Linked DNA regions of Homo sapiens. Changing the gene in region 1 together with any one later gene gives a genetic interaction. Each region holds a gene or a part of one and is shown in the gene's direction. Other genes may lie near its edges. The genes, in order: FBXW7, MYO9B, RPS24, THOC2, LSM2, TOP2A and UBAC1.

Region 1 (3,500 bases):
TATTTCTAAAATCAAAATCTTATTGTATATATTTAGAGGCAGCTTCTGCTGCTTTTTAAAAAATACAGTACAGTGGTTTTCAAACTCAGTCCCACAGAACCTTAAGGTGCTGAACCTAAGGTCCCCAGGTCAGGGAACCAAGCATGCAGCATTCTAGGCTTCCCAACTTCCCATTCCCTTATTATGTTTATATACCAAGGTTTTACATAGGATTTCTTTTGAAAATGGTTGTTGCTGTGTAAAAAAAAAAAAAAAAAAGCTAAAAAACCTTGACTAAATCTACCATGTTTTCTCATATTATTAAAAATTCTAAACGTGGGTTTTTTTGTTTTGTTTTGTTTTTCTGTTTCTCCCTCTGCAGAGTTGTTAGCGGTTCTCGAGATGCCACTCTTAGGGTTTGGGATATTGAGACAGGCCAGTGTTTACATGTTTTGATGGGTCATGTTGCAGCAGTCCGCTGTGTTCAATATGATGGCAGGAGGGTTGTTAGTGGAGCATATGATTTTATGGTAAAGGTGTGGGATCCAGAGACTGAAACCTGTCTACACACGTTGCAGGGGCATACTAATAGAGTCTATTCATTACAGGTAAGATCTCTTATCTCTCCCTTAAATGCTCTCCTGATGAATCATAAGGTTGTTTTACTCAGATAATCACTGTCAAATTGCTGATCCAGTACAGTCCAAAAAAGATTAATCAGATTATTCTGCTGTTTTTATATACGTTAAAATTGGCATGAAGAAAGTGTAAATTTCAAAATTATTTAAATGCTTTCAATTTTCTGTGATCTATTTCTCCTCTAAATACAAATATTTGTTTTGCAACCTGACACTTTGGGGCTCTAAGTTTTGCTATGTTAATTAATGGTTAAATAGTCTCATAGGAGAGTAACCTGGATTTTAAGAAACTCCTTTGCAGAAGATTAATATGGCCAAAAGCTGCCCCTTTGCTTTGATAGCTGAAAGTTGATGGACCATGTAATTGTGATTCCATCCCCATTCAAAGTGGAAATAGATCCTTTCTGCATAAAGCACTCTACTGTCCCAGGCCCACTGATTTGTAGTCATAAAGAAGTAAAGTTGACTAAACCGATTTCTTTTTTTTGGTTTATATTTCAAGCCCATATCCTTGAAAACATTGCCATATTTTGAGATCATTAACTAGATGAATAGGAAGTTTAGAATATGAATCTTGTTTTATTTCCAGAAAGGCAACATTTTTAATGTAAAAATATTTCCTATAGCTTATATAGTTTATTTACCAGTTATTACCCATTAATGTTCAGCAAATTAGTACATAATCTTAGTACTGTCAATTCTGTTCTTAGGATATTTGTTTCTTTGTCAAAGGGATATTGTCCATGTCATGAAATATTGACAATATGATAAAAATGTTTGCTAAATTAGAAAAGGTGATGAATTTGGAGGAAGGGGAATTGGCTGCACCTGTTTCTGATATGTTCAGAAGCTTAATGAATATAATATTCTAATTTAAATAAACTGTTTGATTGAGAAAAGAGGTAGCCACATTATTGTTTAGAAATGATAGACTGTTATTGACTTTTGGTGTAGCTGGGAAGCTGGAGAAGAGGTAGTATGTAGTTTGCTTTTGATTTCAAAATGCCACCTCTTCTGATTCCAGATACAATTATCTTTTGGCACATTTCCTAATTAGCATTAGGTTCTTATAAATGAAATTTTATTTTACACACAGTTTTTAATGGAACTTACTTTTGAACATCACGAAAGTTATCTCTAGCCCTTTTCATGCCTTAGGTGCTGATAAGCATTCCGTTTATCATAAGCTATGTCATTAGTCTCAGCTTCCTAGTGGGAAGTAAAACTCATAGCAATTCTCTCAGTCATCCATGATATATAGCTAGGTGGGGCCAGATGATTTGAAAATTAACATATTGTTCATTTTAGGTGCTTTGTTTTCATTTTAAGTTGTTTCTGCATCTAGTTTGAAGCTGCTTGGCATAAAGATGAGCCTTTCTGATAGAAGTGTGTGAGAACATACATTGTAGAGTTGCTTGATGGCATGCACTTTATCCTCATTGCCACTTTATCTTAGTACCTCATTTTGTTCCTGGCATTACCTGTTTCCCATCCTCTTCCCCCTTTCCTACTAGGATTAAGGTCAGTAATTGATAGGAAGAGTATCCATACTTCTATTCTAATAAACTGTGTCTTTTGTAGTTTGATGGTATCCATGTGGTGAGTGGATCTCTTGATACATCAATCCGTGTTTGGGATGTGGAGACAGGGAATTGCATTCACACGTTAACAGGGCACCAGTCGTTAACAAGTGGAATGGAACTCAAAGACAATATTCTTGTCTCTGGGAATGCAGATTCTACAGTTAAAATCTGGGATATCAAAACAGGACAGTGTTTACAAACATTGCAAGGTAAGTCTTACTCACCTTTCGTTTTGTTCATTAAAAATGAGATCATTATTCAAGAGAAATATGGAGCCTTAGCATCACAAAAAGAGTCAACCTCATACAGAATGGTTACTTCAGAAAAGTTTATGAATATTTTCACCCTGACTTACAGAACTAGTCTACTCTTGAGGAAATGTTTTAAACTGTGTTTTTAATATGTAATATAAAATTGTTTAATCACTTCCTGCATGTTCAATTGACTCTACTTAACCTTTAAGAACAGTGAGAAGAAAGATCTTGGCTATATCATAGAAGCAACGTACTCATTATATTTTTTGATTGACCATTGCATTTTGAATTTGTAGTCCAATTTTAAAGGGCTACCTTATTGAAAAAAACAACAGCATCCTTGATAGAAAATTTATTTGGCCTCCACTTAGTCACGTGCTTAACTGGAATGGAGAGGAATAATAGTGCCTACTAAAGTAGAGAAAGAAACAAGTGAAAATCACTAATATTAGATGAGGTACAGCAGTGCCTCATGATTAACTTTTTCTATTTGTTATAGCCCTTAGAAAGTGTTTTTTTCAGTGGGGCCATCTGATAGGCAACATTGCAGCTTTTTACTCATTGGTTTTGTCTCTCCTCAGAGTTTTGGAATAGTGACTGTTCAGCTTTGAGTGGTTCATGGTGGTGGGGTAATAGATCTCTTAGTGCTCATTTGTCCATCAGCAGAAGGTATGAAGTTGCACTATCTACATCCTCACCAAGGAATGCTGTCGTTCACACAGCCAGAAAATAAGATGTTTGTCTGGTAGCTAACCAAGCTTCTTGGAAGACAGACCTCTTGAAAGTTAATGTTTCAGTTACAAATCACTACCAGATTTTCTTACATCCATGCTGATCCTAAAATACTGAGGACATGGGTTTCTAAATATGTATCATTTCAAATGTTGCATTTATTGTATGTTCTAAAGTAGAAGTCTACAAATTATAATGTAACTAACTCATAGCCATTATTTCTAACCAGTAATTAAATTCTTTTGGTTTTTGTCTAGGTCCCAACAAGCATCAGAGTGCTGTGACCTGTTTACAGTTCAACAAGAACTTTGTAA
Region 2 (3,500 bases), on another chromosome or scaffold:
GCCTCCCAAGTAGCTGGGACTACAGGTGTCTGCCACCATGCCCGGCTAAGTAGAGATGGGGTTTCACCATGTTGGCCAAGCTGGTCTCGAACTCCTGACCTCAGGTGATCCACACACCTCGGCCTCCCAAAGTGCTGGGAGTACAGGTGTGAGCCACCACACCCGGCCCAGACTATTTCTGAAAGCCTGAAATTTTAGATTTGTCATTACCATTCCTGTCAAACCCAGCTTCACCTTAACCAGGGTCACCAGATCTCTGTCTCCTCATCGCTGGCCAGAACACTCACCTAGATTTTCCTTTCTCCACCCAAATAACCTAGGATTTCACCGAGCAGTTCCAGGTGCTCCTGCCCAAGGATGCCCAGCCCTGCAGGGAGGTCATCTCCACCCTCCTGGAGAAAATGAAGATAGACAAGAGGAACTACCAGATCGGGAAGACCAAGGTCAGCGCTCCTGCCCCTCGGGGCACTACAAACCCACACCCTGCCTTCCACCGCACACCGTGTCTCCCCAGGCCCCCAGGGCCACTCTCTGAAACATACAGGGCTCTGTCTAGGAAATGCATTTCTCGGGACCCAGCAGAGCACTGCACCTAAGGGATAGGGGCCGCCCTGGCTGAGCCCCACCTGCTGTTCTTCAGCAGGGCTCAGCGACTCCCTCCGCGTCACCTGTTTATTGCTGCCTCACAGGTAGGAAAGGGACGATCGTGCTAACTGGCAGGATTTAGGAGATGGTCAGTCCCCTTTACGGTATGAGGCAGGAGGTGGCCTGCACTTGTCCTCCCTTTCAGAGACTGTCTCCCATCTCTGGGCATGTGTTTGCCTCTTGCTATGGGAGCATTACTCAGCCACCCTTGTTTAACAAGCGCCAAGGTCAGTCCCCCTGAAGGCCTCACCTGGTGTAAAAAATTCCCTTCCAGCCAAGCGAGGTGGCATGCACGCAGAGTCCCAGCTACTTGAAAGGCTGAGGTGGGAGGATCCCTTGAGCCCAGGAGTTTGAGACCAGCCTGGGAAACATAGCGAGACCCCATCTCTATACAATATTTAAAAATTAGCCAAGCGTGGTGGCATGCACCTGTGGTCTCAACTGCTTGGCAGGCTGAGGCAGGAGTTTGAGACTGCAGTGAGCCCTGATTGCACCACTGCACTTCAGCCTGGGTGACCGAGCGAGATCTCATTTCTTTTTTCTTTTTTGTTTTTATTTTTGAGACAGAGTCTTGCTCTGTTGCCCAGACAGGTGGTGTGATCTCAGCTCACTGCAACCTCCGTCTCCCAGGTTCAACTGGTTCTCCTGCCTCAGCCTCCAAGCAGCTGGGATTACAGGTGCCCGCCACCACACCTGACTAATTTTTGTATTTTTAGTAGAGACAGGGTTTTATTACAGGCACACACCTGTAGTCCCAGCTACTCGGGAGGCTTAGGCAGAAGAATCGCTTGAAACCGGGAGGCGGAGGTTGCAGTGAGCTGAGATCGGGCCACTGCACTCCAGCCTGGTGAGACTCCATCTCAAAAAAAAAAAAAAAAAGGGGGGGCCACAGCCAGGTGCAGTGGCTCATGCCTGTAATCCCAGCATTTTTGGGAGGCCAAGGCGGGCAGATCACTTGAGGTTGGGAGTTCGAGACCAGCCTGGCCAACATGGTGAAACCCTGTCTGTACTAAAAATACAAAAATTAGCCAGGCCTGGTGATGGGCACCTGTAGTCCCAGCTACTCGGGAGGCTGAGGCAGGAGAATCACTTCAACCCAGTAGGCGGAGGTTGCAGTGAGCCGAGATCATGCCACTGCACTCCAGCCTGGGCGACAGAGTGAGACTCCATCTCAAAAAAATAATAAATAAATAAATAAATAAAGCCCTGGTTGGTCAGCACACCAGCCTAGGTCTCACTCTGGAGTGGGCTATGCAGACCTCCCAGGCACAGAGATGGTGTCAGGGGCAGTGCAGCTGACCCCACCTGACCCCGTGCCCACCAGGTCTTCCTGAAGGAGACGGAGCGGCAAGCCCTGCAGGAGACGCTGCACCGGGAGGTGGTGCGGAAAATCCTGCTGCTGCAGAGCTGGTTCCGGATGGTGCTGGAGCGTCGGCACTTCCTGCAGATGAAGCGGGCCGCCGTCACCATCCAGGCCTGCTGGCGGTCCTACCGGGTCCGGAGGGCGCTGGAGAGGACGCAGGCTGCCGTGTACCTCCAGGCCTCATGGAGGGGCTACTGGCAGCGGAAGCTCTACCGGCACCAGAAACAGAGCATCATCCGCCTGCAGAGCCTGTGTCGGGGGCACCTGCAGCGCAAGAGGTGAGCAGAGCCGGGCCACGCTCCTCGGAATATTCCAGAAGCCAAAAAGGTCACTCACCAAATTGCTGCCCGTGATATACCATCTGGCCTGTGGCACTAAGGGGATGTCATTCTGGACACAGGGAAAGGCTGGTGGGAAACCAGATGCCTAGGCACTCATGGGCTGCAGAGAAGTGCTCCAAGGCTGGCAGGCAGCACTCAGGGACAAAGCCCTGCTTTGCCATTGGCTGCACCCATTCTCTGCCCAGGGACTCCCCTGTACCTGGATCGGTCAGGGAACACCTGGATTCAGGGTTGGAGGGGCTGCCTGGACCAGCCCAACACTCACATGGAGCTGGGGCATCCACCGGGCACAGAGAAGCCCCCAGGAGGATATCAGCAGCTCCCGTCCCAGCACCCACAGCTCCGAGCCCAGCCCCTCCCCGACCTAGGCACCCTGTTCACCTCTCCCCTGCCCACACAGACCCAGCTCTGCCACAAGTCAGGTCCCAGCTCCCGGAGCAGGCCCTACCCACACATGCAAAAGCCTCCTAGGCCAGGTGCAATGGCTCATGCCTGTAATCCCAACACTTTGGGAGGCCTAGATGGGAAGATCGCTTGAGCACAGGAGTTCAAGACCAGCCTGGCCAATATAGCAAGATGCCATCTCTACACAAAATTAAAGACTTAGCCAGGTGTGGTGGTACACACCTGTAGTCCCAGCTATTCAGGAAGCTGAGGTGGGAGGATCACCTGGGCCTGGGATGTCGAGGCTGCAGTGAGCTATGATCACACCACTGCACTCCAGCCTAAGTGACAGAGCCAGACACTGTCTCTAAAAGCAAAACAGGCTGGGCATAGTGGCTCACACCTGTAAGGCCAGCACTTTGGGAGGCCAAGGCAGGCAGATCACATGAGGCCAGGAGTTGGAGACCAGCCTAGCCAACATGGCAAAACCCCATCTTACGAAAAATACAAAAATTTGCCGGGCTTGGTGGTGCATGTCTATAATCTCAGTTACTAGGGAGGCTGAGACACAAGAATCACTTGAACCCGGGAGGCAGAGGTCGCAGCAAGCCAAGATCGTGCCACTGCATTCCAGCCTGGACAACAGAGCGAGACTCTGTCTCAAAAATAAAATAAAATAAAATAAAATAAAAGCAAAACAAAAAGCCTCCTAGAAAAAGACCCAAGGGAAAGCCCACAGTGGACCCCAAAGGAGTTTGAGGCTTCTT
Region 3 (2,167 bases), on another chromosome or scaffold:
CAGCCACTTCGGAGGTGCCTTGTTTTGGTAGTGCAAAAGAAGAAAAAATAGTGATCTGTGAGCTCAAGTCTGGACAAGAACAGCCAGTCTCCCAAACTCCCTGTTGAGAGAATGTTGAGTGGACCATTTGTTTCCTGTGAGGCTATTCCATACCTAAAATCCCTTGATGATCCTTTCTGTTCCAGCAAAAACATGCATTAAATGTACTTGAAAAGTTTTGGTTTAGAAAGCTGTGTTTCTTAAGCTCAGACTGGGTCAGTTTCCCTACCAGAGTGGTGGGTAATGATTTTAATGTTTACAAGTCACCTGGATGTACTCTTTTCTCATTCAGCATGGCCTGTATGAGAAGAAAAAGACCTCAAGAAAGCAACGAAAGGAACGCAAGAACAGAATGAAGAAAGTCAGGGGGACTGCAAAGGCCAATGTTGGTGCTGGCAAAAAGGTATAGTTCATTAAGGAAAATATAGAAACGTCATTAATTGTAGGTCTTTAGTTTCTAGGAAAGAAGGGATCTTATTAATTTTTAAAATAACTTTTCTTAATGTTTCTTCTTTTCCCTCTTCTTCTGGATTACAGAAGGTAACATGTTTTAAGAAACTATGTAGCATAGTGTCTTAACACCTCAGTAAAGTAGCTTGGCCCACCCCTTGTCAGCTCACAGCACAATCTGGAGGCCACATTGGTTCATTGATCCCAGCTGGTGGGCACCTTTCAAGCCTATCACAAGAAGTTTTAATTTTACTAATTGGCATAGAACCTTCAATGCAGAGCGGATCCCATTCCCTGTGATTTTACTTATTAATATGGACACTGGTTTAAGAAGCAGTTGGATCAATGTGGCCCGTGTTTTCCTGGCACACTGGAAAGGCAACTGAGATCTCAGGATTGCTTTCCTCTCCAGTTGGCCAAGACAAGTGATTTTAGCGATAAGCAGCTTTTTACCAGCTTTGCTAGCTGTAAATAGTTGGACATTGTAAATCATTGAATAGAATTAAGGTGTTGGGTTGTTAAATTAACAAATAATCAAGTGTTCTGTGAACTTTTTTTTTTTTTTTTTTTTTTTGCTTTTCCTCTCTACTTTCTTGGATTTCTTGTTCATCAGAAATGAAGTGTCTAGCAGGTACTGAGATTGTAAGCACGGTGTGGGGATGCATCACCTTCACTGAGTTTGCTTTGATGATGCTTTGCATGTTGGCCTTTGGACGACAGTTTTATAGTATGGTCGATTATAATGCCAGTGCTATTTAGGCTGGTGCAAAAGTAATTGCAGTGGCAAAAACCACAATTACTTTTGCACCAACCTAATATGTTTTAAGATAGTATATTATGAGCAAAGGAGAAAACGTTTAAAATCATGTTTATTTTGTAAACTCCAAAATGCATGTTACATGTGAAGTGACTCACTGGAGGAAGGTGAGTACTTTACCAAGTAGGCACTTGGGAAATGCTGTGTCCACATACTTAGGAAATGGCTTCAGTTAACACTGGGCTTGGGAAGGGCTCTCTTATCCAAGGAGCAGTCTTCTCTGGAGCCATGAAACCAGCCTGGCAGCACTGGTAATAAACTAGTCTGTGAAATCTGGCAAAGCCTCTGTCCTGTTTGGATATACGCAAAACTGCCTTTTACCATTTCCATTGCTTTTTATTACTTAATCTCCCAACTTTGTGCCTGGTGTCTTTTTTTTTTTTTTTAAAATAGAAAATTTTTGAGGTAATTATGTATTCATATAAAAGTCTTTGGTGGATATGCTTTTTCCCACAAGCACTTGGTTAGAATGGCCCATTACCTCATTTGTTTATTTTTTGAGACAGGGTCTCTTGTCACCCAGGCTGGAGTACAGTGGCATGATCATGGGTTACTGTACCTCCCGGGCTTGGGTGATTCTCCCACCTCAGCCTCCCTTGTAGCTGCGACTACAGGCATGTGCCACCGTGCCCTGCCAATTTTTTGTAGAGACAGGATTTAGCCGTGTTGCTCAGGCTGCTCTTGAACTCCCGGACTTGAGCAGTCTGCTTGTCTAAGCCTTCCAAAGTGCTGGGATTACAGGTGTGAGCCACTGTGCCCAGCCTGTTACCTCATTTAAAACAAATTTTGCACATCTGAACAGCCTAAAATTGTAATGTGATAAGTGGGGTAGGAGTGGGGTGGGCGTAGTGGGATTTTGAA
Region 4 (3,500 bases), on another chromosome or scaffold:
AGTGCATTGTTATAAGGAGAAGTTTTTTTTTTTTTTTTTTGAGACAGGGTCTCACTCTGTTGCCCAGGCTGGAGTGCAGTGGCACGATCTTGGCTCACTGCAGCCTTGACCTCCTGGGCTCAAGTGAATAAGGAGGAATTTTAAACAATTATTTTATTTCTCTTTCTTTCTCATCCTTTCCTTTTCCTTTCCTCTTTTTCTTTTTTCTCTTTTTCTATATGAAGGAATATTTGAAATTGCATTTTAGTAGCCCGAGTACAAAGGGAAAGATGAGTTACTTTATTCTGTTAAATTCTTCTTTCAAAGACATGGTGCTTCCTGCTATTATTATTATTATTTTTTTTGAGACAGAGTCTCACTCTGTCGCCCAGGCTGGAGTGCAGTGGTGCGATCTCGACCCACTACAACCTCCGCTTCCTGGGTTCAGGTGATTCTCCTGCCTCAGCTTCCTGAGTAGCTGGGATTACAGGCATTGGCCACCAAGCCCGGCTAATTTTTGTAGTTTTAGTAGAGACGGGGTTTCACCATATTGGCTAGGCTAGTCTCAAACTCTTGACCTCAAGTAATCTGCCCTCCTCGGCCTCTTAAAAGTGCTGGGATTATAGGTGTGAGCCACGGTGCCTGGCCCCTGCTATTATATTCTAAAGAGAATTGACCCTATAAGGGAAATGAGAACCCAAAGAGGGAATTGTTTTAATACTTCATAGTAAATATTGAAGCAACCTTGATATACTTATATATCTCCTCTCCACAAAAGACCTAGATGGCATTTTTAGGTTATATCTTCTGATGCTAGTCTGAAGCAGATGTTATTTCTGTGTTGCCTGGTGGAAGGAAGATTGATTTTGTTTTATATTCCAGATAAACTTATGTTAGGTTTAACGTATTTTGTGAAATTAGAAGCTTAATCGTGGTTTTTTTTTTTTTTTTTTTTTTGAGATAGGGTCTCACTCTGTTCCCCAGGCTGCCCAGGCTGGAGTGCAGTGGTACTACGATCACCACTCACTGCAGCCTCGACCTGCAGGCTCAAGTGATCCTCCCAGCTCAACCTCCCAAGTAGCTGGGATTATAGGCATGTGCCACCACACTTGGCTACTTTTTTTTTCTATTTTTTTTTTTTTTTTGTAGAGATGGGGTCTCACTTGTTGGCTAGGCTGGCTAGGCTGGTCTTGTACTCCTGTGCTCAAGTGATCCTCCCACTTCGGCCTCCCAAAGTGTTGGGATTACAGGCATGAGCCAGCATATCCAACTTTAACCAGTGTTCTTAACCAACCACTGTTCTCTTCTCAACCCATTAGAAGGCCTGTCTAGTTCTCCAGGGAAGTAGTTGAAAGTACTTGGGATCAAACTTAAACCAGCTTACCATTTGTAAGGTACTCTCAGAATAATTTTTTTAGTGAGAAATGTTTAATAGCTAAATGACATTTTCTTTCTTTGTTTTTGTTTTTGAGATGGGATCTTGCTCTGTCACCCTGGAGTGCAGGCTGGAGTGCAGTGGTGCGATCATGGCTCACTGGTGTGATCTTGGCTCACTGCAGTCTCAACTTCCTGGGCTCTGGCGATCCTCCCACCTCAGCCTCCTGAGTAGCTGGGCCCACAGGCGCGTGCTACCATGCTCTGCTAATTGTTTGTGTTTTTGGTAGAGACAGGGTTTCACCACGTTACGAGGCTGGTCTTGAACTCCTGAGCTCAGGTGATATTACCAGGCTGGTCTCGAACTCCTGAGCTCAAGTGATTCACCCACCTTGGCCTCCCAAAGTGCTGGGATTACAGACGTGAGCTACTATGCCTGGCCTGACATTTTCAAACTAAATATTTAATTTAGTAGATGCTCTCCATTGCCCTTATTTTTTATTTTTATTTTTTCTGAGACAGAGTCTCGCTCTGTTGCCCAGGTTGGAGTGCGGTGATGCAGTCTTGGCTCACTGCAACCTCTGCCTCCTGGGTTCATGCGATTCTCCTGCCTCAGCCTGTAGAGTAGCTGGGATTACAGGTGCGCACCACTGCGTCCAGCTAATTTTTGTATTTTTAGTGGAGACGAGGTTTCATCATGTTGGCCAGGCTGGTCTCAAACTCTTGACCTCAACTGATCCACCCACCTTAGCCTCCCAGAGTTCTGGGACTACAGGTGTGAGCTACAGTGCCCGGCTTCCATTGCCTTTTTATTTTTTGGTTTTGAACATATTTGTGAAACCTAGAAGTGAATTGTTGACCAGCAAAAGTTTACTCTGTTGACTTTTAATAACCTTACCCTGCTCATCCTGATGATAGGGTATTGACATAATCAGAAGGCACAGAGGTGAGCTGCAAGGTTATGTATAATCTGCAAAGTAGATAATCTCTCTGTGGATGATTGTAATCTGGCATCTTATTTAGCCTTAGATGTGATATATAAGCAGGTTCTGTAAGTCTTAAAATTATTTGTTTCATTGACTAGAAAAAGGATTACTAGATATAAAAGAGTAAGAAACTCTTCTATATGAATTCATTGGCTCTCTTTAAAGCCTTGTGCAACATGGAAGAATTTTTTTCTAAATTGTGAAATGTAATGAAAATACAGAGAAGTCATGAAACCTCAATATAGAGCTTAAAATAATCACTGTAAGATGCACCCCCATGTAACTTACACCCAGGTCAAGGCAACATACTGTTTGTTCCCGATCAAACCTTTCCCACCTCTCATGTAGTAAACATTATCCTGACATTTATGGTTTTCCTCTTGATTTTTCTCTTTTTTTAACCTTGCATCTTCAACTCAAAGAAACTTTCTTGATTTTCTTTGCAGTGTCATTACCCAATATGTTTAATTTTTTTCTTGAACTTCATATAAATGAAATCATTGAATATTTATCCTACTGTTTCTGGCTGCTTTTGTTCAACAGTTATGACTTTTAAGATTCATCCATATTGTATGTTTGCAGTTCATTGATTTTCCTTTTTTTTTTAGTTCATTCATTTTCATAGTTGCAAGATACTCCATCGTATACCAGTATTTGTTTATTTTTATGCTGTCTTGTTAAACATTTTTGTTGCGTCTAGTTTTTGGCTATTACTAACAGTGCCAATAGAAACATTATTATACAACAGTTTTGGTGTATACAAGCATGTGTTTTTGTGGAGTATATACTAGGTGTAGAATCTCTGGGTTATAGGTTACACTTTAGCTCTGTTAGATATTGCCAGGCTATTTCAGTGTACACTCCCACCAGCAGTGTATGAGTTGACCTTGTTTCACATTGTCACTATGTTTGATATTGTCAGACTTAAATTTTTTGTAAATATGTATGTAATTTTACTGTGGCTTATATTTCCATGAGCATCTTTTTATATGTTATTGGTCATTTGGAGTACTTCTTTTTTTTTGTTTGTTTGAGACAGAGTCTTGCTCTGTCGCCTAGTTTGGAGTGCGGTGGTGGCGTGATCTTGGCTCACTGCAACCTCTGCCTCCCGAGTTCAAGCGATTCTTGTGCCTCAGCCTCCTGAGTAGCTGGGATTACAGG
Region 5 (3,500 bases), on another chromosome or scaffold:
CGCTGGGTTTTAAAGACTTTCAGAATTTTACAAAAATTGGGGCAGAGAACTGCCAACTTTATTTTTGGCAAGATAAGGACGTTTTTAAAACTGCTATTTATTACGATTATTTTTATTTATTTATTTTTCTTGAGATGGAGTCTCACTCTGTCACCCAGGCTGGAGTGCAGTGGCTCGATCTCGCCTCACTACAACCTCCACCTCCCGGGTTCAAGTGATTCTCCTGCTTCAGCCTCCCGAGTAGCTGGGATTACAGGCGTCTGCCACTATGCCCAGCTAATTTTTTGTATTTTTAGTAGAGATGGGGTTTCACGATGTTGGCCAGGCTGGTGTCGAACTCCTGACCTCGTGATTCGCCCGCCTCGTCCTCCCTAAGTGCTGGAATTATAGGCGTGAGCCACCGTGCCCGGCCACAGTTATTTTATTTTATAACTTTAAAATAGAGATGAGGTCTTGCTATGTTGTCTGGGCTGTTCTCCAGCTGGCTTCAGGCGATCCTCCTGCCTCAGCCTCCCAGAATGCTTGGATTATAGGCGTGAACAACCATTCCCAGCCAAAGGCTGTTTTTTTAAATTTTTGCACCATTCTCTCAAAGAGCACTGGTGTTTTGATAGCATTCCTCAAATAGCATTTCAAGGGGCTCGAGGATTGGGGAATGGAGAGGACATCACTCATGCCTGCATCATCAAGAGTAATGCTACCTACCTTTATCCACATATGGGCTCTGGTTCCAAAGCAATAAATGTTTGAAAATAGCTAGCCTGGGTGACATTCACAGTGAGACCCTTTCTCTACAAAAAAAAAAAAAAAAAGTCGGGAATGGTGGCTCATGCCTGTAATCCCAGCACTTTGGGAGGCTGAGGTGGGCAGATCATGAGGTCAGGAGATCGAGACCATCCTGGCTAACACGGTGAAACCCCGTCTCTACTAAAAATACAAAAAATTAGCCAGGAGTGGTGGCCGGCATCTGTAGTCCCAGCTACTCGGGAGGCTGAGGCAGGAGAATGGCGTGAACCTGGGAGATGGAGCTTTCAGTGAGCCGAGATTGTGCCACTGCACTCCAGACTGGCCGACAGAGCGAGACTCCATCTCAAAAAAAAATCAGCTGGGCATGGTGGCTCAAGCCTGTAATCACAGCTACTCAAGTGGCCACAGTGAGCCATGATCACGCCATTTCACTCCAGCCTTGGCCATAGAGTGAGACCCTGTCGCAAAAATAAAAAAAAAATAGCTGATGGTTTTGGGAGTCACACAGACTTGGACTGAAGTTCCCATTTGTTCTAAACTCATAAAGTTTAAAACAACCTCTCTGAGCCCCTGGAAGGTAATAACTACTTTGAAAGATGGCTGTAAAGATTACAAATACTATATAGAATACAGGTCTAGCCTTTACCAGTTGTTTAATGGTAGCTGTTAAGAATAGGTTGGTTTGGCCGGGGACAGTGGTTCACACCTGTAATCCCAGCACTTTGGGGAGCTGAAGTGGGCAGATCGCCTGAGATCAGGAGTTAAGGAACAGCCTGGCCAACATGGTGAAACCCCATCTCTACTAAAAATAAAAAATTAGCCGGGCATGATGGCATGCGCCTGAAGTCCTAGCTACTCAGGAGACTGAGGCAGGAGAATCGCTTGAACCTGGGAGGCAGAGGTTGCAGTGAGCCAAGATCACACCACTGCACTTCAGCCTGGCTGACAGTGAGACTCCATCTCAAAAAAAAAAAAAAAAAAAAAAAGAATGGATTGGTTTAGGGAGAGGAGATGTGGGGTTGAAAATAAACTACTCTGTTAGTTGTCTTTCCTACTCCAGGGCTTAGGAATGCCCCCTTTTGGTTCTACCTTTTCTGACATCCTCAAGTCCTTGACTTCTCCCAGTCATGTTCTCATCCCAGCTCTGAAGTCACCTCTATGTTGACTTTGTTATAAACTAATTTGATTCTTCTCTCCCTCTGCCCTTGACAGCATCTGTGGAACCCTCCATTCTGTGGATCAGGTGAGATATAGCACGGGCCCCAGAATTGGTTCCTGGAGAAGGAGAGGGGAGACTTAAGGGTTGGGTTCTTACATCATGTCTCTAGGGTTAATAATGGTGTTCGTCGGCCAGGCACGGTGGCTCACGCCTGTAATCCCAGCACTTTGAGAGGCCGAGGCCTGAGGTCAGGAGTTCAAGACAAGCCTGACAAACATGGTGAAACCCCGTCTCTACTAAAAATACAAAAAATTAGCTGGGCGTGGTGGTGGGCACCTGTAATCCCAGCTAGTCGAGAGGCTGAGGCAGGAAAATCATTTGAACCCAGGAGGCGGAGATTGCAGTGAGCCGAGATGGCACCATTGCACTCCAGCCTGGGCAACAAGAGCAAAACTCTTGTCTCAAAAAAAAAAAAATAATAATAATAATGGTGTTCATCTTCCTTTCCTAGTATCTCAACATCAAACTAACTGACATCAGTGTCACAGACCCTGAGAAATACCCTCACATGGTGAGTTGGGGTCTGTGGAGAAGAGGAAACACCTCTAAAGCAGGAGGCCCCTGGGTGGTTAGAGGACATTTTTAAGGGTGTTTTCATATTTGTCCATCTTTGTCTAGTTATCAGTGAAGAACTGCTTCATTCGGGGCTCAGTGGTCCGATACGTGCAGCTGCCAGCAGATGAGGTCGACACACAGTTGCTACAGGATGCGGCAAGGAAGGAAGCCCTGCAGCAGAAACAGTGATGGCTCCTCCTCCTCTTCCCCTCCCTCTTTCATTGGTGACCCATAACCCCAAGTCCCAGCCCAGAACCCCTAACCCCCAATACTTGAAGGGGTTTTGTTTTTTTACTAATGATGGTTTTGTGGGTTTTTTTTAAGGGATGAGTGGATGAGAGGAGTAATAGGGAACAGCTATCCTCTCTTGAGAAGGGGAGGATAAGTAGGCTGGGAAACTTCAAAGCCTTCCCAGTCCCCAGCACCTGCCTTTCTCACTACTTCTCTGGAGATGGTAGGAGAGTTTCCTAGGTCTTTCCAGGGCAGCATGTGATTCATTTGGGGATGGAAGGAATCTGTCCCGCATCGGGAATAAAATTTATGATGCAAATTTGTGTTTTGGTTCTGTTACTATGTGTTGGGCAGGGGGCTGGGACATGGAAAAGGATGTCGAATTCATCCAAGCCCCTGTTACTCTGCGTTAACCCAGCCAAGAATCCAACTCAGCTTCCCACTACTCTCCTTGGTATAAAGCATATAATACAGTTGCTCTACACCATGTTTCCCCAACATGTCCCTACCTGTATGTTCTCCCTGTGGCCTTTTGCTTATACCATACCTGCAACTGGAGTGCTTGCTGTCCTTCCATTAATGTGATAGTGTCATAAGATACATTTCATGCTACCAGACTTCACCAATCCAACCAAATCAGTTCATGTTTTCTGAATATGTATAGAAGATAAATACAAGTGATGTAATTTATATTTTAGAGAAAAGTTGTGACTGGGAATTACTAAACTTCATTCACTCATTCAGCAAA
Region 6 (3,500 bases), on another chromosome or scaffold:
TTATGATTGATATTGGTTTTCCTTTTTTTTTTTTTTTTTTTTGATGGAGTTTTGCTCTTATTGCCCAGTCTGGAGTGCAGTGGCATGATCTCGGCTCACCGCAACATCCACCTCCTGGGTTCAAGCAATTCTCCTGCCTCAGCCTCCAGAGTAGCTGGGATTACAGGCGCACACCACCACACCTGGCTAATTTTGTATTTTTTTTAGTAGAGATGGGGTTTCTGCATGTTGGTCAGGCTGGTCTCGAACTCCTGACCTCAAGTGATCTGCCTGCCTTAGCCTCCCAAAGTGCTGGGATTGCTGGGATTACAGGCGTGAGCCACTGCGCCCAGCCTGTTTTTATGTACTTTGTTGAGTGGGAACGAGATGTATAGATGATCCTCTTGAAAGGGGTATAATAGGCATGATGACTCACTCCTGTAATCCCAGCACTTTGGGAGGCCAAGGTGGGAGGATCAGTTGAGCCCAGGAGTAGTTTGAGACCAGCCTGGGCCATATAGTGAGACCCTCATCTCTACAAAAAATTTAAAAATTAGCCAGGTGTGGTGATGGACACCTGTAGTCCCAGCTATTCAGGAGGCTGAAGTGGGAGGATTGCTTGAGCCCAGGAGGTCAAGACTGCAGTAAGCTGTGATCCTGCCATTACACTGCAGCCTGGGTGACAGAGCGAGATGCTGTCTCAAAAAAGGAGTGGGAGTGGTGTATAATAATGTTTCCAGATTGTCCTTTTCTTTCCATTGGGCATAAATCATTTCCCTCTGTTTATCCTAACATTTTAAAATTTTGTATTTTTTCAACATTATCAGTGTCTATTCAGGTGTTGGAAAAGGTTTTTTTTTCCTCTTGACTCCTATTTCAGGAATGTCAGGAACTAAGCATGGTGGGAAATGTTCCTGCTGAATTTCAGAAGGTATATATGAAAAGTGCCAAAAAAATTGAGGGCTGGGTATGGTGGCTCACATCTATAACCCCAACACTTTGAGCAGTTCTCCTGCTTCAGCCTCCCAAGTAGCTGGAATCACAGGCATGCGCTACCATGCCTGGCTAATTTTTTTTATTTTTAGTAGAGACGGTTTCAACATGTTGGCCAGAACTCCTGGCCTCAAGTGATCTGCCCTCCTCAGCCTCCCAAAGTGCTGGGATTACAGGCACAGGCCACCGCGCCCAGCCTGAATATACATATTTTAGAAATAATAGTATTTAAATATTTTTAAATGTTAAGCATTCGTTTAATGTGTTGTAAAATACAATTTTCAATCTTTTTTTCTTAGGGAAAACAATTTAATTAGTATATGGAATAATGGAAAAGGTATTCCTGTTGTTGAACACAAAGTTGAAAAGATGTATGTCCCAGCTCTCATATTTGGACAGCTCCTAACTTCTAGTAACTATGATGATGATGAAAAGAAAGTGACAGGTAGAGTATTGAGGGGAAATAACATATTTGTTGCTAAAAATATATATATTTAAATGACTGTCTGTGGCATGAGGGTTAAAGATATGGAAATAAATCTCTATAATTGAATAGCTCTGCCAGTGATTAAGAAATAAAGCTGTCAATGAGATAGTAACAATAAAATAGTGTTTCATATTTATTTGCCCAGGTGGTCGAAATGGCTATGGAGCCAAATTGTGTAACATATTCAGTACCAAATTTACTGTGGAAACAGCCAGTAGAGAATACAAGAAAATGTTCAAACAGGCAAGTAAATAAGTGTCTTGTACCTTAATGATAAATGGTAGTAGTATAGCCATTTATAATGGCATTAATGATTGGTTTAATTTAACATAATTTATAAGCTATTGAAGTATGGAAAATTATAAGCATATATATTAGGTTATTAGGACTCATAAATTTATGTTATTTACTTCCAGTTTGTGAGATGACTTGAATTTTTCATGTTTCCTATTCTTTACTTCCATAGACATGGATGGATAATATGGGAAGAGCTGGTGAGATGGAACTCAAGCCCTTCAATGGAGAAGATTATACATGTATCACCTTTCAGCCTGATTTGTCTAAGTTTAAAATGCAAAGCCTGGACAAAGATATTGTTGCACTAATGGTCAGAAGAGCATATGATATTGCTGGATCCACCAAAGATGTCAAAGTCTTTCTTAATGGAAATAAACTGCCAGTGAGTATTTTCCTGGATGTTAAGGATAATAAGGGATTTTGTAATCATTGTCAAGTGCAAAATTGAATTTTTTCCCCTCCCATATGTTTTTGTTTGTTTGTTTGTTTGTTTGTTTGAGACAGAGTCTCACACTGTTGCCCGGGCTGGAGTGCAGTGGCACGATCTCGGCTCACCGCAACCTCCACCTCCCAGGTTCACGCAATTCTCCTGCCTCAGCCTCCCAAGTAGCTGGGATTACAGGTGCCTGCCACCACACCTGGCTAATTTTTTGTATTTTTAGTAGAGACAGGTTTCACTATGTTGGCCAGGCTGGTCTCGAACACCAGACCTCATGATCCACCCGTCTTGGCCTCCCAAAGTGCTGGGATTACAGGCATGAGCCACTGCACCTGGCCCAACCATATGTATTTTCTTACCACTTCTCACATATGTTCTTGAAAAGAGAATGGTATGCCACATTTTTTAATCAGCTCATTTTAAACTTACCGAAGGAATTTCTTTCTCAAAGAAACACCTAAAATAAATATTTCATGTCCTTTTTTTATTTTCCTTTTTCTTTCTTTTCTTGATAACCTCGCTGTGTCACCCAGGCTGGAGTACAGTGATGCAATCACGGCTCACTACAGCCTGGACCTCCCAGGCTCAAGCGATCATCCCACCTCAGCTTCTGGAGTAGCTGGAAATGCAGGCAGCACCACCATGCCCAGCTAATTTTTTTTTTTCTTTTTAATAGAGGTGGGGATCTCACTATGTTGCCCAGGGTGGTCTTGAACTCCTGGGCTCAAGTGATCCACCCACCTCGGCCTGTGTCCTTTAATGACCATTCCCTTATGCCTATCAGTGAACATCATTGCATTGGTTTTGGAAAGTCCTCATAGTCTATCATTGAACCTATTTTTTAATAACTTTCTTAATACTGTTACCTTTAATTCCTGTACAGGTAAAAGGATTTCGTAGTTATGTGGACATGTATTTGAAGGACAAGTTGGATGAAACTGGTAACTCCTTGAAAGTAATACATGAACAAGTAAACCACAGGTGGGAAGTGTGTTTAACTATGAGTGAAAAAGGCTTTCAGCAAATTAGCTTTGTCAACAGCATTGCTACATCCAAGGTAATTTTATTCTTAAATTATTAATCATGATTTATCTTTACATATATGTGTTCTTATTGTTTTTAATATATAAAGTGGACTTGAATATTGGGCTAGCTTAGTATAAAGGAGGTTAAATTAGTTTTTAATGTTTGATTATTATAATTTTGAGGATACTGAGTTTTACAGTTTGGTATTTTTCCTTATTAGGGTGGCAGACATGTTGATTATGTAGCTGATCAGATTGTGACTAAACTTGTTGATGTTGT
Region 7 (3,500 bases), on another chromosome or scaffold:
AGGACTCTGGGGGCTTCAAGAGAGTGGGATCTGACCTTTCAGGGATTAGGAGAGGCCCTTGAAATTTTGATGAAGCCTTCATCTTACTTATTTATATTTTTTCAAAATGGACCCCTTTAAACATTGTGGTATAAATCTCCAGAGTAGAGGATGTATTATCTTGTTACATGAATTGTGTCCAGAAAATGTATGTCCTTCCCCAAAAACGAATTAGCATATGTTCAGTTGTAGCTTAAGTTTTGTTCAATATTAAAAGTTAAAAAATTAGTTTTAGGATTTTTTTTTTTTTTTTTTGAGATGGAGTCTCGCTCTGTCGCCCAGGCTGCAGTGCAGTGGCGCGATCTTGGCTCACTGCAAGCTCCGCCTTCCAGGTTCATGCCATTCTCCTGCCTCAGCCTCCCGAGTAGCTGGGACTACAGGCGCCTGCCACCACGCCCAGCTAATTTTTTTGTATTTTTAGTAGAGACGGGGTTTCACCGTGTTAGCCAAGATGGTCTTGATCTCCTGACCTGGTGATCCGCCTGCCTCGGCCTCCCAAAGTGCTGGGATTACAGGTGTGAGCCACCGCGCCCGGCCCTAGGATTTTTTTTTTTCTAAGATAAAATCTGAATAAAACCTTTTTTCACAGGTTACAATGGCATTTTTGTTTCCGTTGAGATTGCACTTACTGACGTGGCCTTTCCCTAATGCCACTTCTCTTTGGGTAACAAGGCCCTCTGGGGTAAACCTGCGGTGGCTGCCGAGACAGTCTTATCCACACAGTCATCGGGACAAACCTGAAAGGGTCTGAAGTTGGCCTGACTGCCTCGTGTCCACATAAGCGATGCGTTTCTACCTGTCACAACCTGTGGCTCCCTGAAGACAAGCCTGGGAGCTGCACTGCCCCCCGGCTCTGCTAACTACAGTCATCCCTGCACTTCCTCGGCTTTAGGATGCTGAAAACCAAGATCTGTTTTAGCAGAGCTGTGAGGAAAGAACGTGGACGGACAGCGTCCTCAGTGCTGTTGGGAGCACCCTCCGCTAGGGTGCGGGGAGCGGGCCCCTCTGCACGCAGGTCACTGGTTCCTCGGCCTCCTGCCGCCCCCAGCGAGCTAACGGCTGTGCTGTCCTCTAGGCCGTCATTTCCCTGATGGAGATGGGGTTCGACGAGAAAGAGGTGATAGATGCCCTCAGAGTGAACAACAACCAGCAGAATGCCGCGGTGAGTGTTGGGCTGTGGTGAGTGAGTGTGGGCTGTGGTGAGTGAGTGTGGGCTGTGGTAAGTGTGGGCTGTGGTGAGTGAGTGTGGGCTGTGGTGAGTGAGTGTGGGCTGTGGTGAGTGTGGGCTGTGGTGAGTGAGTGGGGGCTGTGATGAGTGAGTGTGGGCTGAGTGAGTGTGGGCTGTGGTGAGTGAGTGTGGGCTGTGAGTGTGGGCTGTGGTGAGTGAGTGTGTCAGGCTGGGCGAGTGCTGGGAGCCTCACTCGTGAGCGCCCCGGGCGTGGTGGAGGCCGTGTGTTTGCCTACTTTCACATGCAGCCGGCTATGTGGCTTTTAAAGTGAGACAATTGGATAGATGGCTCAAACAGTATAAAAATTTAAAAATACGGAATTCTAGGTTTTTAAAAGGGTGCCTTATATGTACATATTTTATGGATGGGTAATTTGTTCATTTTTTTTTTTTTTTAATTTTTTTGGAGTCAGGGTCTCACTCTGTCCCCCAGGCTGGAGTGCAGCGGTGTGATCACACTCACTGCAGCCTCGACCTCCTGGGCCCAAGCGATCCTCCTGCCTCAGCCTCCTGAGTAGCTGGGACCACAGGCATGCACCACTATGCCCGGCTAATTAGTTTTTTAGAGACAAGATCTCCCTTTGTTGCCCAGGCTGATCTTGAACTCCTGGCTTCAATCGATCCTCCTGCTTTGGCTTCCAAAGTGCTGGGATTACATGCATGAGCCACCACTCCCAGCCCATTTTTCTGATTAAACTGACTCAAGAATGATTCCCGTCCTGTGCCCGTGTGCCAGCTGGGCTGATGGAGCTGTGCCTGGGGAGGTCCCTGTGGTGGCCCACATCCCCCCCCCACCATCCCCCGTGCCAGTGGAGTTCGTGGCTCACACCTCCAAGACAGAGATGAGGAGCCTGTGTCCTCATGGCTCCAGCACTGCTGACTGCCCATAACAGGACCACAGGCAAGCTGGGCACTTGGTACATTTGTTAATCACCTTCCCAACACTCCTGGGTGGGCCACACTGGCCCAGGTAAGTGGGGAAGCGGCAGCAGTCAGTGATCCCTGCGACACCAGGGTCTGCAGAGAAAAGCGGACTAGCTCTTCCTTCTCTGGCCTGGTCTGACACGCACGGCAGTGAATCCAGACTGCGTTTGTCTTCACGGTAGAGTCCCTTCCAGGGAGATCAGCCCTGGGGGCTCAACAGGAACTCACAGAAAGGTGCAGGAGCTGTCATGCCTGCTGCTGGTGGCGTCTTGCGGAGGCACTGAAGGCGCTAACAGTGGTATTGGTGCTCTTGGCTTTGCAGTGCGAGTGGCTGCTGGGGGACCGGAAGCCCTCTCCGGAGGAGCTGGACAAGGGCATCGACCCCGACAGTCCTCTCTTTCAGGCCATCCTGGATAACCCGGTGGTGCAGCTGGGCCTGACCAACCCGAAAACATTGCTAGGTATGTGCGCCTTCTTTATGCTAAGTCTCGGGTCGGGGAGGCTGGCTGGTTCCCTTGCAGGACAAATAGGTGCTGCGGAGGCGATACGGAGGATCCAGCGCTGAGGATCGCCGTGCGCTGGCAGCACGTCCTGCCATGCAGGTTGGCATCCTGCGGGTGTAGTCCCGCTACGTCACTGTGGGGCCCGCAGGTCAGGTTCTGATCGTGGTGTGACTGTCTCCTGCGCGATGACCCTGACATAGGCCTCAGAAAACCAGTGCCAGTGGCTTTCCGAGGGCCAGCGGGGTGGAGACTGCGCCAGCAGCTTAGGAACTCACGGGAGGACAAGGTGTGGTTTGGGCTTTTGCTCTTACTACTCGTCAGGGTCTTCGATGGCAATGGTTTATTTTTATTGTGAGATACGTACATACAAAAGTGTATATGATGATGTAACTTTAAAGAAGAATAAAACTAATAGCCATGTATCTACTATTCAGCTTTGGGCCTGGGGTGCCCCTCCCCTATGCACCTCATCCCTCCCTCCGGTGTGGCCGTCGCCGTGGCCGCGGCTTACCTCTCTGCTTCCCGGTAGAGTTTTGCCGTATTTGTGTCTCCTTAAACAATCTCTCATTTGCTGCTGCCTTTGTGTAAGTAGAATCATGTTTTAAGCAGGCCTCTGTGACTGACTGCGTTCTTTGTGGGGGTTGTGGAGTATTTTCTTGATGGAAGGCACTGGGAACCCAGGGCTCGTTGGGTTGTCTACATGTGGTGCCACTCCTGATTTTTTTTTTTTTTTTTTTTTGAGACAGAGTCTCGCCTTGTCACCCAGGCTGGAGTGCAATGGCATGATCTCGGCCCACTGCAACCTC

Evidence for each region.
Region 2: changes in FBXW7 (region 1) and MYO9B together harm fitness more than expected from each alone (negative genetic interaction), as found in Homo sapiens cells (one large-scale study listed by BioGRID).
Region 3: changes in FBXW7 (region 1) and RPS24 together harm fitness more than expected from each alone (negative genetic interaction), as found in Homo sapiens cells (one large-scale study listed by BioGRID).
Region 4: changes in FBXW7 (region 1) and THOC2 together harm fitness more than expected from each alone (negative genetic interaction), as found in Homo sapiens cells (one large-scale study listed by BioGRID).
Region 5: changes in FBXW7 (region 1) and LSM2 together harm fitness more than expected from each alone (negative genetic interaction), as found in Homo sapiens cells (one large-scale study listed by BioGRID).
Region 6: changes in FBXW7 (region 1) and TOP2A together harm fitness more than expected from each alone (negative genetic interaction), as found in Homo sapiens cells (one large-scale study listed by BioGRID).
Region 7: changes in FBXW7 (region 1) and UBAC1 are lethal when combined (synthetic lethality), as found in Homo sapiens cells (one study listed by BioGRID).

The regions. Positions count from the first base shown.
Region 1 is NC_000004.12:152,323,093-152,326,592, reverse strand, and holds part of FBXW7 (F-box/WD repeat-containing protein 7), read left to right. Parts: intron 1-361; coding exon 362-587; intron 588-2,198; coding exon 2,199-2,409; intron 2,410-3,443; coding exon 3,444-3,500. UniProt on the Homo sapiens protein: Substrate recognition component of a SCF (SKP1-CUL1-F-box protein) E3 ubiquitin-protein ligase complex which mediates the ubiquitination and subsequent proteasomal degradation of target proteins.
Region 2 is NC_000019.10:17,190,777-17,194,276, forward strand, and holds part of MYO9B (unconventional myosin-IXb), read left to right. Parts: intron 1-320; coding exon 321-443; intron 444-1,969; coding exon 1,970-2,286; intron 2,287-3,500. UniProt on the Homo sapiens protein: Myosins are actin-based motor molecules with ATPase activity. Unconventional myosins serve in intracellular movements. Binds actin with high affinity both in the absence and presence of ATP and its mechanochemical activity is inhibited by calcium ions.
Region 3 is NC_000010.11:78,036,863-78,039,029, forward strand, and holds part of RPS24 (small ribosomal subunit protein eS24), read left to right. Parts: intron 1-331; coding exon 332-442; intron 443-576; coding exon of another isoform or gene 577-579; intron 580-1,102; coding exon of another isoform or gene 1,103-1,108; exon of another isoform or gene 1,109-1,120; intron 1,121-2,167. UniProt on the Homo sapiens protein: Component of the small ribosomal subunit. The ribosome is a large ribonucleoprotein complex responsible for the synthesis of proteins in the cell. Required for processing of pre-rRNA and maturation of 40S ribosomal subunits.
Region 4 is NC_000023.11:123,723,053-123,726,552, reverse strand, and holds part of THOC2 (THO complex subunit 2), read left to right. Parts: intron 1-3,500. UniProt on the Homo sapiens protein: Component of the THO subcomplex of the TREX complex which is thought to couple mRNA transcription, processing and nuclear export, and which specifically associates with spliced mRNA and not with unspliced pre-mRNA.
Region 5 is NC_000006.12:31,796,967-31,800,466, reverse strand, and holds the end of LSM2 (U6 snRNA-associated Sm-like protein LSm2), read left to right. Parts: intron 1-1,959; coding exon 1,960-1,990; intron 1,991-2,417; coding exon 2,418-2,477; intron 2,478-2,584; coding exon 2,585-2,710; 3' UTR 2,711-3,071; downstream 3,072-3,500. UniProt on the Homo sapiens protein: Plays a role in pre-mRNA splicing as component of the U4/U6-U5 tri-snRNP complex that is involved in spliceosome assembly, and as component of the precatalytic spliceosome (spliceosome B complex).
Region 6 is NC_000017.11:40,411,397-40,414,896, reverse strand, and holds part of TOP2A (DNA topoisomerase 2-alpha), read left to right. Parts: intron 1-1,271; coding exon 1,272-1,417; intron 1,418-1,604; coding exon 1,605-1,702; intron 1,703-1,925; coding exon 1,926-2,138; intron 2,139-3,078; coding exon 3,079-3,252; intron 3,253-3,441; coding exon 3,442-3,500. UniProt on the Homo sapiens protein: Key decatenating enzyme that alters DNA topology by binding to two double-stranded DNA molecules, generating a double-stranded break in one of the strands, passing the intact strand through the broken strand, and religating the broken strand.
Region 7 is NC_000009.12:135,937,374-135,940,873, reverse strand, and holds part of UBAC1 (ubiquitin-associated domain-containing protein 1), read left to right. Parts: intron 1-1,114; coding exon 1,115-1,201; intron 1,202-2,513; coding exon 2,514-2,652; intron 2,653-3,500.